Linked DNA regions of Homo sapiens. The protein of the gene in region 2 purifies or fractionates together with the protein of the main gene of each other region. This does not show direct contact. Each region holds a gene or a part of one and is shown on either strand. Other genes may lie near its edges.

Region 1 (2,906 bases), on a different chromosome or scaffold from region 2:
TGTCATATTGGCCAGGCTGGTCTTGAACTCCTGGCCTCAAATGATCCACCTGCCTTGGCCCCCCAAAGTACTGGGATTACAGGTGTGAGCCACTGCACCCAGGTTTTTTCCCCCCCATTTTTATAAATGAATTTTTTTATTCATTTTTTGTTTTCGTTTTTGTTTTAAGAGATGGGAGTCTCACCCTCTCTCCCAGTCTGGAGTACAGTGTCAAGATCATAGCTCACTGCGGCCTTGAACTCCTCGGCTCCAGGTATCCTTTTGCCTCAGCCTCCCGAGTAGCTGGGGCTATGGGTGTGCCACCATGCCTGGCTGATTAAAACAATTTTTTAGAGATGAGGGTCTCACTATGTTGCTCAGGCCAATGTTGAACTCCTGACCTCAAGTGATCCACCTGCATCAGCCTCCTGAGTAGCTGGGATTACAGGTATGAGCCACGTGCTTGGGTCATTTTTATAAATTGATATGAAACTTTTATCAATTAAAATTCTGGTAATTTATTTTTATCTCTTAAGTGAAAATGTACCTTGACTTTTTTATTTTTTAACGGTTTAAAACATGTGCAGTAGAAATTCTCTGTTAATACATAAATGGAAATTACATTTTTTTTCATATTGGCGTGTATCTACAAATATTAAAGGACAAGAAAAGGTAATATAATTTTAGGTTTAACAAATATGGTGTATATTCAAATAATACTTGACCAGCTTATCTAAATTGTACATAATATTTGGACTAGCATATGAATTTGATTTTAATTATTATGTTCACAAGCCTGGGATAATTAGATGTTATTTTGCATCTGTAACTGTAATCATTTCTTGTAATTTCTTGTGCAGGTGTATTGTACTTAATAGATTTTACTTTTGGAAATATGACTGTTGAAATTAGCTTAGCTTTTATTTACTGTTTGTAGAGTATTTTCGTTTTGGAGAAGAACACTGTTTTAGTTTAGGACGCTTTTCAAGAGTGAAAGCTTCTGATGATTTTTTTCCCTCATAGGAAGAAATACTGGAAAGAAAATGTTAGTATAATGCAGTTATTGTAACAGCTTATGACTTGATTTTGATTTGGAAACCTATACTGACCAGATATTAAGCTTAAGGATTGTATAAATCATTAAAGCTGTGGTCTTTTCATATGGAGGTTGATAGATAATTTTTTTGTCTTGAGTCTTATTTGGTGACTTTCTATTCATGTAATTCATCATGTGTGAGTGAGGTTGTTGAACAAACTGAACACATGGGCTACAGCAAGTAGTTTTTATTTTTTTTTATTATACTCAAGTTCTAGGGTCCATGTGCACAACAGGCAGGTTTGATACATAGGTATACATGTGCCATGTTGGTTTGCTGCGCCCATCAACTCATCATTTACATTAGGTATTTCTCTTAATGTTGTCCCTCCCCGAGCCCCCCACCCCCCTGACAGGCCCCGGTATGTGATGTTCCCTGCCCTGTGTCCAAGTGATCTCATTGTTTAGTTCCCACCTATGAGTGAGAACATGCAGTGTTTGGTTTTCTGTCCTTGTGATAGTTTATAGCAAGTAGTTTTACAGTACAGATCTTTCCATTACATTTTATTGTTTAAACAAAACAAAATTTGTTTTTCTGTTAGGAATAAGAAAAAAATGGTTTTTACATAGGTTCTTACGGTACGCTTGGAGTACACTTACAGGCCACTGCTGCAGTCTACATTTTATTGTGCTGAATCTGCATTCTATCAGATACCCATGGAAAGACCTCAGTATATGCTTTGCACTCTGCTTTGCTCCCCTTTTCCAATTTCCTATTGCAAATCATTTTGATGTAATACAGAAAAAACAGCATTTAAATATCTACATGAAGAGTTGACCCACTAATGTCAGCCGACCTCTACTTTGTCAGCTCATAGTTAAATCTTTTATCATTTCAAAAATAAAGTGCATTTTCTTTTTCTTTTTCTTCTTTTTTTAGTGATGGAGTCTAACTTTGTCACCCAGGTTGGAGTGCAGTAGCATGATCTCAGCTCACTGCAACCTCCACCTCCTAGGTTCAAGTGATTCTCCTGCCTCAGCCTCCCAAGTAGCTGGGATTACAGGCACCTGCCACCACGCCCAGTTAGTTTTTTGTATTTTTAGTAGTTAGTTTCACCATGTTGGGCAGGCTGTTCTTGAACTCCTGACCTCAAGTGATCCACCTGCCTCGGCCTCCCAAAGTGCTGGGATTACAGGCGTGAGCCGCCGCACCTGGTTGCATTTTCAAAAGAATGAATTTAAGAATAATAAAATTAAAATAGGCCCACTTTTAAATTGTGGTCCATTTTATAATTCAATTTTTATTGTTAACAAAAAAAAAGAGTATAAATCAGATAGTAGCACTCTTCGGCTGAAAATCCTTCAATGGCTTCCCAGTAGATTCAGAATAGAATGCAAACCCTTTGTCACCTTTAAGAGGCTTTATGACCTGGCTCCTGCCTCGTTTCTGCTGCTTGGCTCCAACAATTCAGGCCATACATTTGGGCCATATTACCTTCTTTCTCTTTCTTGGTTGCACTGAGCTTTTCCTCATCTCAGGGCCCCTGCTCTTGGCCTCCTCACTTTCTGAGACACTCTTCCCACAGACCTAGCTTGCTTGGGTGCTGTCTCCGTTCAAATCACTTCCCGGGAGATGCTTTCCCTGAACACTGTTAACTAAAGAGGGCAGCTTCTACCCCTGGGCACTCTATCCCATTTTCCTTGTTTATTTTTTCTTGGCAATGTTAATTCTTTAAGTTTTTTTTTGTTTGTTTATTTGTTTGCTTATTTATTATTTGTCTTTCCTCATTAGCGTACAATTTCTATAAGGGCAGAGGCTTTTCCCATTTTGTTTCTTGCTAAAGTCTCAGTGCCTGGAACAGTGTTTGGCCATAGTACATACTTATTGAGC
Region 2 (3,650 bases):
AGCTGAATAAAGCCAAATACCAACCATAATTTGTGTTATGAAATGACAACATGAGGCAGGGTGCTGTAGCTCATGCCTGTAATCCCAGCACTTTGGGAGGCTGAGGTGGGCAGATCACATGAGGTCAGGAGTTCGAGACCAGCCTGGTCAACATGGTGAAATCCCCATCTCTACTAAAAACACAAAAATTAGCCAGGCATGGTGACATGAGCCTGTAGTCCCAGCTATTCACGAGGCTGAGGCACAAGAATCACTTGAATCTGGGAGGCAGCAGTTACAGTGAGCTGAGATTACGCCACTGCACTCCAGCCTGGGTGACACAGCAAGACTCTGTCTCAAAAAAAAAAGACAACATGAAAAAAGTAGGAAGTGGTAAAAATATAGTTGACTCCATACCTGCAATGCAAATCTACAAGAAGCAGTGGAAAGATGATGAAAAAGAAAAAGTAAAAAACCACAATGAAGAAAACTGTGGTCAGTCGAAATGGAAAAATGCAAAAAAAGAAAAGGAAGCCAATGTTCAGTAAAGGTAACACAGGCTGTTGGGTGTTTGCCAGTGTACACTATCTTCGGGAAAATGAGCATCCAAGGGGAAAATGAAAAGATCTCTTCCTAACAGCTATACAGTCAAGGCTGCTGGAAAAGGCTCAGGAAGTTAAACACAGAAACTCTGACTCTACCTTCTTTTTTCACTTTGGTGACAACATTCTGAGTTTCTGACCATCGTTCCACAATCTCCTTGCAGATATTAAGGAGGGAATCTTCTTCCTAGTTGGAAAAGCAGACCAATTAATTTCCTGAGGGAGCCCTCAAAAACAATAGTAACCTCAAAAAAGCCTATGAAGAAAGCACAGCTCTCCATGCTGTGAAATTATGGAAGGGTCTGGGAGCCACAATAGAGTATGTTTCTTTTCTGAGGCTCTGGACACAGAATTGATCCTGCTTGTGTGTCCCAGAACCCACACCTCCTACATCAAGAACAGCCACTCCATCCTGATAAGCTCCAAGGGAAGATTCATACCAACTCAGGGCAGCCTTCCTCATTCTCTCTTAAAATATTTATTTTATTTTTAATTGACAAATAATAACTGTATATATTATATATATGTAGGGTACCCTGTGATGTCTCAATATATGTTCACATTGTAGAATAATTAAATCAAGCTAATTAACAAATCTATCACCTCACATATTTCTCATTTTTTTGGTGATGAAAACATTTAAGGCTGGGTGCAGTGGCTTACGCCTGTAATCCCAGCACTTTGGGAGGCTGAGGAGGGCGGATCACTTGAAGCTGGGAGTTCAAGACCAGCCTGGCCAACGTGCTGAAACCCCATCTCTACTAAAAATACAAAAATTAGCCGGGTGTGGTGGCACATGCCTGTAATCACAGTACTCGGGAGGCTGAGGCACAAGAATAACTTGAACCCAGGAGGCAGAGGTTGTGGTGAGCCGAGATCACGCCACTGCACTCCAGCCTGGGAGAGGGGAGAGAAATTGTCTCAAAAAAAAAAAAGAAAGAAAGAAAGAAAACATTTAAAATGTACTCTTTTAGTAATTTTGAAGTATACAATGCATTATTATTTATTTATTATTATTACTTTTTAGAGACAGGGTCTCACTCTGTTACCCAGGCTGGAGTGTAGTGGTGCAATCACAGCTCACTGTAACCTCAAACTCCTGGGCTCAAGCAATCCTCCTGCCTCAGCCTCTCAAGTAGCTAGGACTGCAAGCATGTACTACCACACCTGGCTAATTGAGTTTGTTGTTTTTTTTAAAAGATGGGGTCTCACTATCTTACCCAGGCTGGTCTCCAGCTCCTGACCTCAAGCAATCCTCCCATCTTGGCCCCCTAAAGTGTTGGGATTACAGGCCTGGGCCACCACATCCAGCCGATTATTACTTATTATAGTCACCATTCTATGCAACAGATCACTAAAGTATATTCCTTCTGTCTAACTGCAATTTTATACCCTTTGATCAACAATCTTCCCTTTTCCCATCCACCTCCCCCAATTCTTTTGGAGCAAAAACCTGTTCCCTAAGTCAAAACTCCTCTGTGAAATATTCCTTGGCTGACGTATACAATTCAGAACCTTCCCTAAGGTTATCAACTTTCATGCTAGATCATATCCATTAGCTTGCTGACACATAATAAAGAGGAGATACATGACAAAATGGTCTCTTGTCCAACCATCCCGCTGTCCATTTTAGAGAAGCATACATATTCTGCATACCAACCAATCTCCCTCCTCAGCATGATATAACAAAAATCTTGTCTTTAGTGTTAGAGATACTTAAGTTCAAATCCCAGATCTGTGAGGAAGTTTCTTAACTTTCTGATCTTCACATCCTCCCAGGATTTTACTGAGGATAAATGAAAATGTATATAAATGCCTACCCTACTTGTCAAAGAACAAGCATCTAATAAACACGAGCACTTCCCTCCATCTTCATTACGGCTGCATTCCCCACCTTCACGTTCTACCTCTCAGGGCAAGCTGTCAGCATTCACATTTATTAAGCATTTACCATGTGCCAGGCACTGCTCTAAAAGCCTTACATGAGAACTCTCAATTATTAAAATAATGCCATTAAGTACTATTTTACTCTCAATTTATAGAAGAGGAAACCAAAGCACAGAGGTTAATTACTTTGCCCAAGGTCTTACAAGTAATAATGGATTAAACACAATTTGAACCCCAGCAGTTTGGCTTAGAGCCCATGTTCTTTTTTTTTTGAGACGGAGTCTCGCTCTGTTGCCCAGGCTGGAGTGCAGTGGCGCGATCTCGGCTCAATGCAAGCTCTGCCTCCTGGGTTCACGCCATTATCCTGCCTCAGCCTCCCAAGCAGCTGGGACTACAGGCGCCCGCCACCACGCCCAGCTAATTTTTTGTATTTTTAGTAGAGACGGGGTTTCACCATGTTAGCCAGGATGGTTTCGATCTCCTGACCTCGTGATCCGCCTGCCTTGGCCTCCCAAAGTGCTGGGATTACAGGCGTTAGCCACCGCGCCCAGCCGAGCCCATGTTCTTAACCATCTCCCAAAGAAAAGTGGAGAGTCAGAACACAGACTTATTATGTATATCCTTATTTTGTACCCAGCAAAGGATTTCTTCCTCTACCTTGCATCCTTTTAGCTACATGCTAGACACACAGAACTTCCTTGGTCCAGAGTTTCAATAGTTCATGGGTTTCCCCCAACCCCCACCAGCAAGAAAAGCAAAGAAACAGAAAAAGAAAAAAGGATGAGAAAGTGGTACAGCTCTTTTAAAATCCCCCACCAAAAGAAAAAGAATGGCAGGAAAAGGAGCAGCAGAGAGGCAAAAGAGAACGGGAACTCTTAAGAGGACAAAGTGGTTTATTTCCTCAGTCTCCTCATCCAAATCAATGTAGTTCAATCATCCATTCCTTCATTTATTTATACAGAAGGTGCCTGCTATGTTCAAGGCACTAAGAGGAAAGTTTATCCTACTTACAATGCTCCTTTTTCCCTGGCACTTATCACTTTGTAACATACTATATAATTTACTAGTGATGCTTTTCCATGCTAGAATGTAACCGCATGAGGGCAGGAATTTCTATCTGTTTTATTCTTTGAAGTGCCCCAAGCACTTAGGGTAGTGCCTGGCATACGGTAATCCATCAAT
Region 3 (4,023 bases), on a different chromosome or scaffold from region 2:
ATGTGGGGTCAGTGCTTGGGAGCCTGTGGCCAGCAGCCCCCACTGCACCCCTGCCCCCAGGTGACACGCTTCTGAGCAGGGGCCCCTGGGGACTTCAACTGCCCAGCAACATGGAGGATGGTGTCCTGAGGCCTCCAAGGACGGTCCCCACCCCTCTACGTTTCCCCAATAAAGCCTTTTAAAAACCTGCCTGCCTTCTCTGCTCACTGCCCGATGCCTTGCAGCCCCCTAGCTCTAAGGTGGCCCAGCAGGCTGGACAGCCCGGGAACTCACTGGGTCTGGCTCTCGGCTGTCCACACCCTCTTCCCCCCCGAATCTCCAGACCCGCAGGCCTTGGGTTCAAGTTCAGTGTCACAGAACCTGAGCTGGATTTTGTCCTCAGGGGTCACACCTGGCCTTGAGCCAGCCCCTCGGTTGAGGCTCGTGGGCTCACCAGCTGGCTCTCGGGGGGCCACACAGCGCCCTCCCTGTGTGTTCCCCGGCTAATGTCTAAAGTGCTCATGCCAGGTCCCAGCTGGACTCCCCTCGGTAGGGCCCCACCTTTTGTTACCTGAAAATGTCCTTAAAGCCTCCTCCATGTAAGAAACTGGCAGGCCTGGAGCCCCTCCCCCGTGGGGACCACCCTCCTTCCAGCAAAATGCCGGCCAAGCTCAAGGAGAAACAGCGTTTATTGTGGAGGGGAGCTGGGCGGGGCTCAGCCCTCGGAGAACTGGCAGTACAGCCGCCCCAGCCTCGGCTCCACCCATAGCCGGAACGGGATCTCCAGGATGGCAGAGAAGCCTTCAGCCAGCGTTGGGGCCTCGAACTGCTTCCTGGCAGTGGTGGGAACAGTGAGGGACAGCCTGGATCATGTGGCCCAGCCAGTGCCCCTGCCCCCTGCTATCCCCAACAGTACCTGTAGCCATACATGACCATGTCTGACACGGGGATATGAGAGGAGTCCGTCATCTCTCGAAACTGTGGGGAACATCAGAGGGGCGGCAGGCCCAGGGGTCAGGGGAGGAGGGGGGTCAGGGGGTGCAGCCCGGGGGGTGTCCGGGCTGAGCGGGCTCACCCGGTTGTTGTGGCGCGCCTGCTCCAGAGTGGCGGTGAAGAGGAAGCAGCGGCAGGGGACGCCCGCGGCTCGGGCACACTGGACGTACCTGTGGGGGAAGGAGCTGGATGTGCAGGCCCCGCCCACCCCGCCGCAGGCCACCTACGGCCCCGCGGTCACGCTACCTGGCGCGGCTCGCGGCGTCTGGGTTTGTGTTGTCGATGGCGACCCGTTTCCCTTGCTTCAGGGCTGTCTCACACGTGGTCACACAGCGCTGCCAGGAGCCTAGCGTGTCCTGGGGACACGAGAGGTCACAAACAGATCGGCAGACCCAGGGGGAGAGAAGACCCCGAGCGGGGACGGGGAGGCAATGATGGAGGAAAGCCGCCCCAAACCAGTTGAGAGGTGGAGATGGGAACTTTATAATAGATTTGGGGCGGCAAAAGCCTGGTCATACCCTGTTCACGTGGACATATCCGGCCGACACGAGGTGCTTCTTGAGAAAGGTGGACTTCCCGGCTGTGTGGGGGGCAGTGTCGGTGGGTGGCCTAGGACCCAGGCGGGGCTCAGGGCACGCGCACAGGAACAGGACACTTACCCCCAGGGAATCCCACTGCGACAACCACCTCCGGGCTGGCGCTCAGGAGGGCCCTGGACTCGGGGAGGCAGAGAGGCCCTGAGCGGGAGACAGTCCTCTGCGAGGGGCGGGGGACACGCGTGAGATGCCGTCCCCATCCCCGGGAGCCCTCCCATCCCCACCCCCACCCCCGCCCCAGGGCCTCACCGGATCAAAGGCTGGGAGCTCGAAGCCGGCTGCTGGCCACTTGAGAAAGAACTCCTCAGGCGTGGCGAAGGGCAGGCCAAGGTTGAGGGCAAACTAGGGGTTGAGGACGAACATCAGACACAGGCCAGGGTCGGGCTCGGGCGCGGGGCAGGGGGCAGGGGCCTCACCAGGCGATCGGCGCAGGAGAAGTCTTTCTTCTTCCGCCCCGGGGCCCAGTTGGCCGGGCGTCCGGCTGCGTCTGGAACACACGGGACACCCCGTTCCCACCAGCTCGGAGGGAGGCGTCCCAGCCCACCCTCAGCAGCCTCCAGGCCCTTACCTCCCACAAAGATGCTGTCCCCGATGGATATGGGCGTGCCGTCGTTGGCCTACGGGAGACGGTAGTGAGGAGGCCCTTCCCACAAATGTCCCCCCGCAGCGGTAGCGGGTCCCTGGGGCTGCTTCGCCTGGTCTGTGCCCCACATCAGGAATCATCCCCCGACCTTTCATGTCCTCACTCTCCAGCCACTTTGCACCGTGCTCCTGGCCCCCTCCCCCCTCCGTGGTCTCTCCACACAGCCCCCTCCCTCCAGGTCTCCCGACTTCACCTCCTCCCGTTCCCCACGCGGCCACCGGAGGGCACCCACCCTGCTACAGCTCCAGCCTCCGGCGTGCCGGCGCCTCCCAGGTTCCCCCTCCCTCAGGGCAAAAGCGGGGCCCTCCCTGTGGCCCTGCCCTCTCCCCTCCCTCGCTTAGAGCCAGCCGCATGGGCCTCGCTGTCCCTAACTAGCCCAGGCTAGGGACTGCCTCAGGGCCTTTGCACTTGCTGTCACTCCCACAAGGGGGGGGACCGCTTTCCCCAGGTGTCCACCTGGCTCCCTCCTTTCCCTGCCTTAGGCCTTTTCCTCTGATGTCACCTCCTCAGAGGCCATCCCTGCCCACCACGGGTGATGCCTGCTTTCTCCAGCTCCCTCCCTCCTGCTGTTTTACACGCCAGTCTGCCCATCCGCCTAGAGTCACCGCCCTCGCCGTGAGGGCCCTGCTGGAGCAGGCCGTCCCGCTCACTGATACCTTCAGCTCAAGAATGCGCTAAACTTCAGAACAAATGCACACACAAACGAATGAACGAAGGAATGAACAGCTTCCCTACTACTCTGATGTAGAAAGTCTGAAAGCACTGGTCTCGTAAACCAACATCTAAGATGTCACAGCAAAAAACAGAAGGAGGGAGCGAGAGAGGACAGAGGAGTAAGGAGGCCCCAACCGGAGGCCGGGGAGCCCAGGAGTGAGGGGCTGGAGTGAGGAAAAGGAGGGGGGCCGGGCAGGCTGCAAGACTCACCTGCTCCTGCAGATGGTCCCACATGCCCGTCACCGGCTTCCGGTACAAGCCTGCGTGCGTGGCCACCAGCACCTGTGGATGGGAGGGGGCCACCAGCTTTAGCTCCCCCTCAAGCACCTACTGGATGCCACCCCAGCCCAGAATTTGTAGCTGATGATGGGTTCCTATCAGCATCACACTGCCTGAGGCCTCCGCCCCGCTTACCCTGGAGTCTAAAGCCCTCGCTCTGGATCTCTGTGCCCCCACATAGCTCCCAGCCTCCCTTCCAGCCATACCTGGAAGGGGACCCCCAGCTTCTCCACCACAGCCTCCACCTTGGCCTTGAACTCCTCGGCTGGCAGCTTCCCGCGCCCGATGCTCATCTGGTTGGTGAAGATCACCAGCTGGGGAGCAAAGGGTGTCACCAGACGCTCTGCTCACCAGGGCCTTGGTCTGACTGCGGTCGGACCGCCACGTGCACGTGCCCATGCAGACAGGCGGCTGCACATACCTTGTAGCCCTCGGCTTCCAGCTCTCGGAGCTTACGGGGAATCTCTGGGTACAAGATCCTACGGCAGGTATGAAGCGGCAGGGGTGACCCGGGGCCAGAGGTGGACTCCAGGCCTCACTCACTCCCTTGTTTTGCCTCTTATCACCTCCAGTCACTGGGGCCAGTGGGAAAGACCTTCCCAGAGCGTGTGGTGATGAGCGTCCCGTCCAGATCAAAGCCAGCCACCTGGTGTCACCAAGGAAAGACAAACAGCAGCACTGTGATACCTCTGACCCTCCTCACTCACAGGCTGACTCACACCAACCCTGCCAGGCAGGGTGTTATCACTGCCATCTCACAGATGGGGAAACCGAGTCACAGAGCACCTCCATCTCAAGCATCCGTGATGCCTCTGAGTG

The links.
Region 1: the proteins of CCDC43 (region 2) and APTX purify together in Homo sapiens (co-immunoprecipitation; one large-scale study listed by IntAct). This does not show direct contact.
Region 3: the proteins of CCDC43 (region 2) and PNKP purify together in Homo sapiens (affinity purification with mass spectrometry; 4 studies listed by BioGRID and IntAct, with this or other methods). This does not show direct contact.

The regions. Positions count from the first base shown.
Region 1 is NC_000009.12:32,974,747-32,977,652, reverse strand, and holds part of APTX (aprataxin), read left to right. Parts: intron 1-450; exon of another isoform or gene 451-1,264; intron 1,265-2,906. UniProt on the Homo sapiens protein: DNA-binding protein involved in single-strand DNA break repair, double-strand DNA break repair and base excision repair.
Region 2 is NC_000017.11:44,683,192-44,686,841, forward strand, and holds part of CCDC43 (coiled-coil domain-containing protein 43), read right to left. Parts: intron 769-3,650; coding exon 681-768; intron 1-680.
Region 3 is NC_000019.10:49,860,554-49,864,576, forward strand, and holds the end of PNKP (bifunctional polynucleotide phosphatase/kinase), read right to left. Parts: intron 3,851-4,023; coding exon 3,771-3,850; intron 3,684-3,770; coding exon 3,626-3,683; intron 3,519-3,625; coding exon 3,411-3,518; intron 3,208-3,410; coding exon 3,136-3,207; intron 2,186-3,135; coding exon 2,137-2,185; intron 2,056-2,136; coding exon 1,985-2,055; intron 1,911-1,984; coding exon 1,818-1,910; intron 1,729-1,817; coding exon 1,632-1,728; intron 1,553-1,631; coding exon 1,491-1,552; intron 1,329-1,490; coding exon 1,219-1,328; intron 1,143-1,218; coding exon 1,055-1,142; intron 958-1,054; coding exon 896-957; intron 813-895; coding exon 695-812; 3' UTR 651-694; downstream 1-650. UniProt on the Homo sapiens protein: Plays a key role in the repair of DNA damage, functioning as part of both the non-homologous end-joining (NHEJ) and base excision repair (BER) pathways.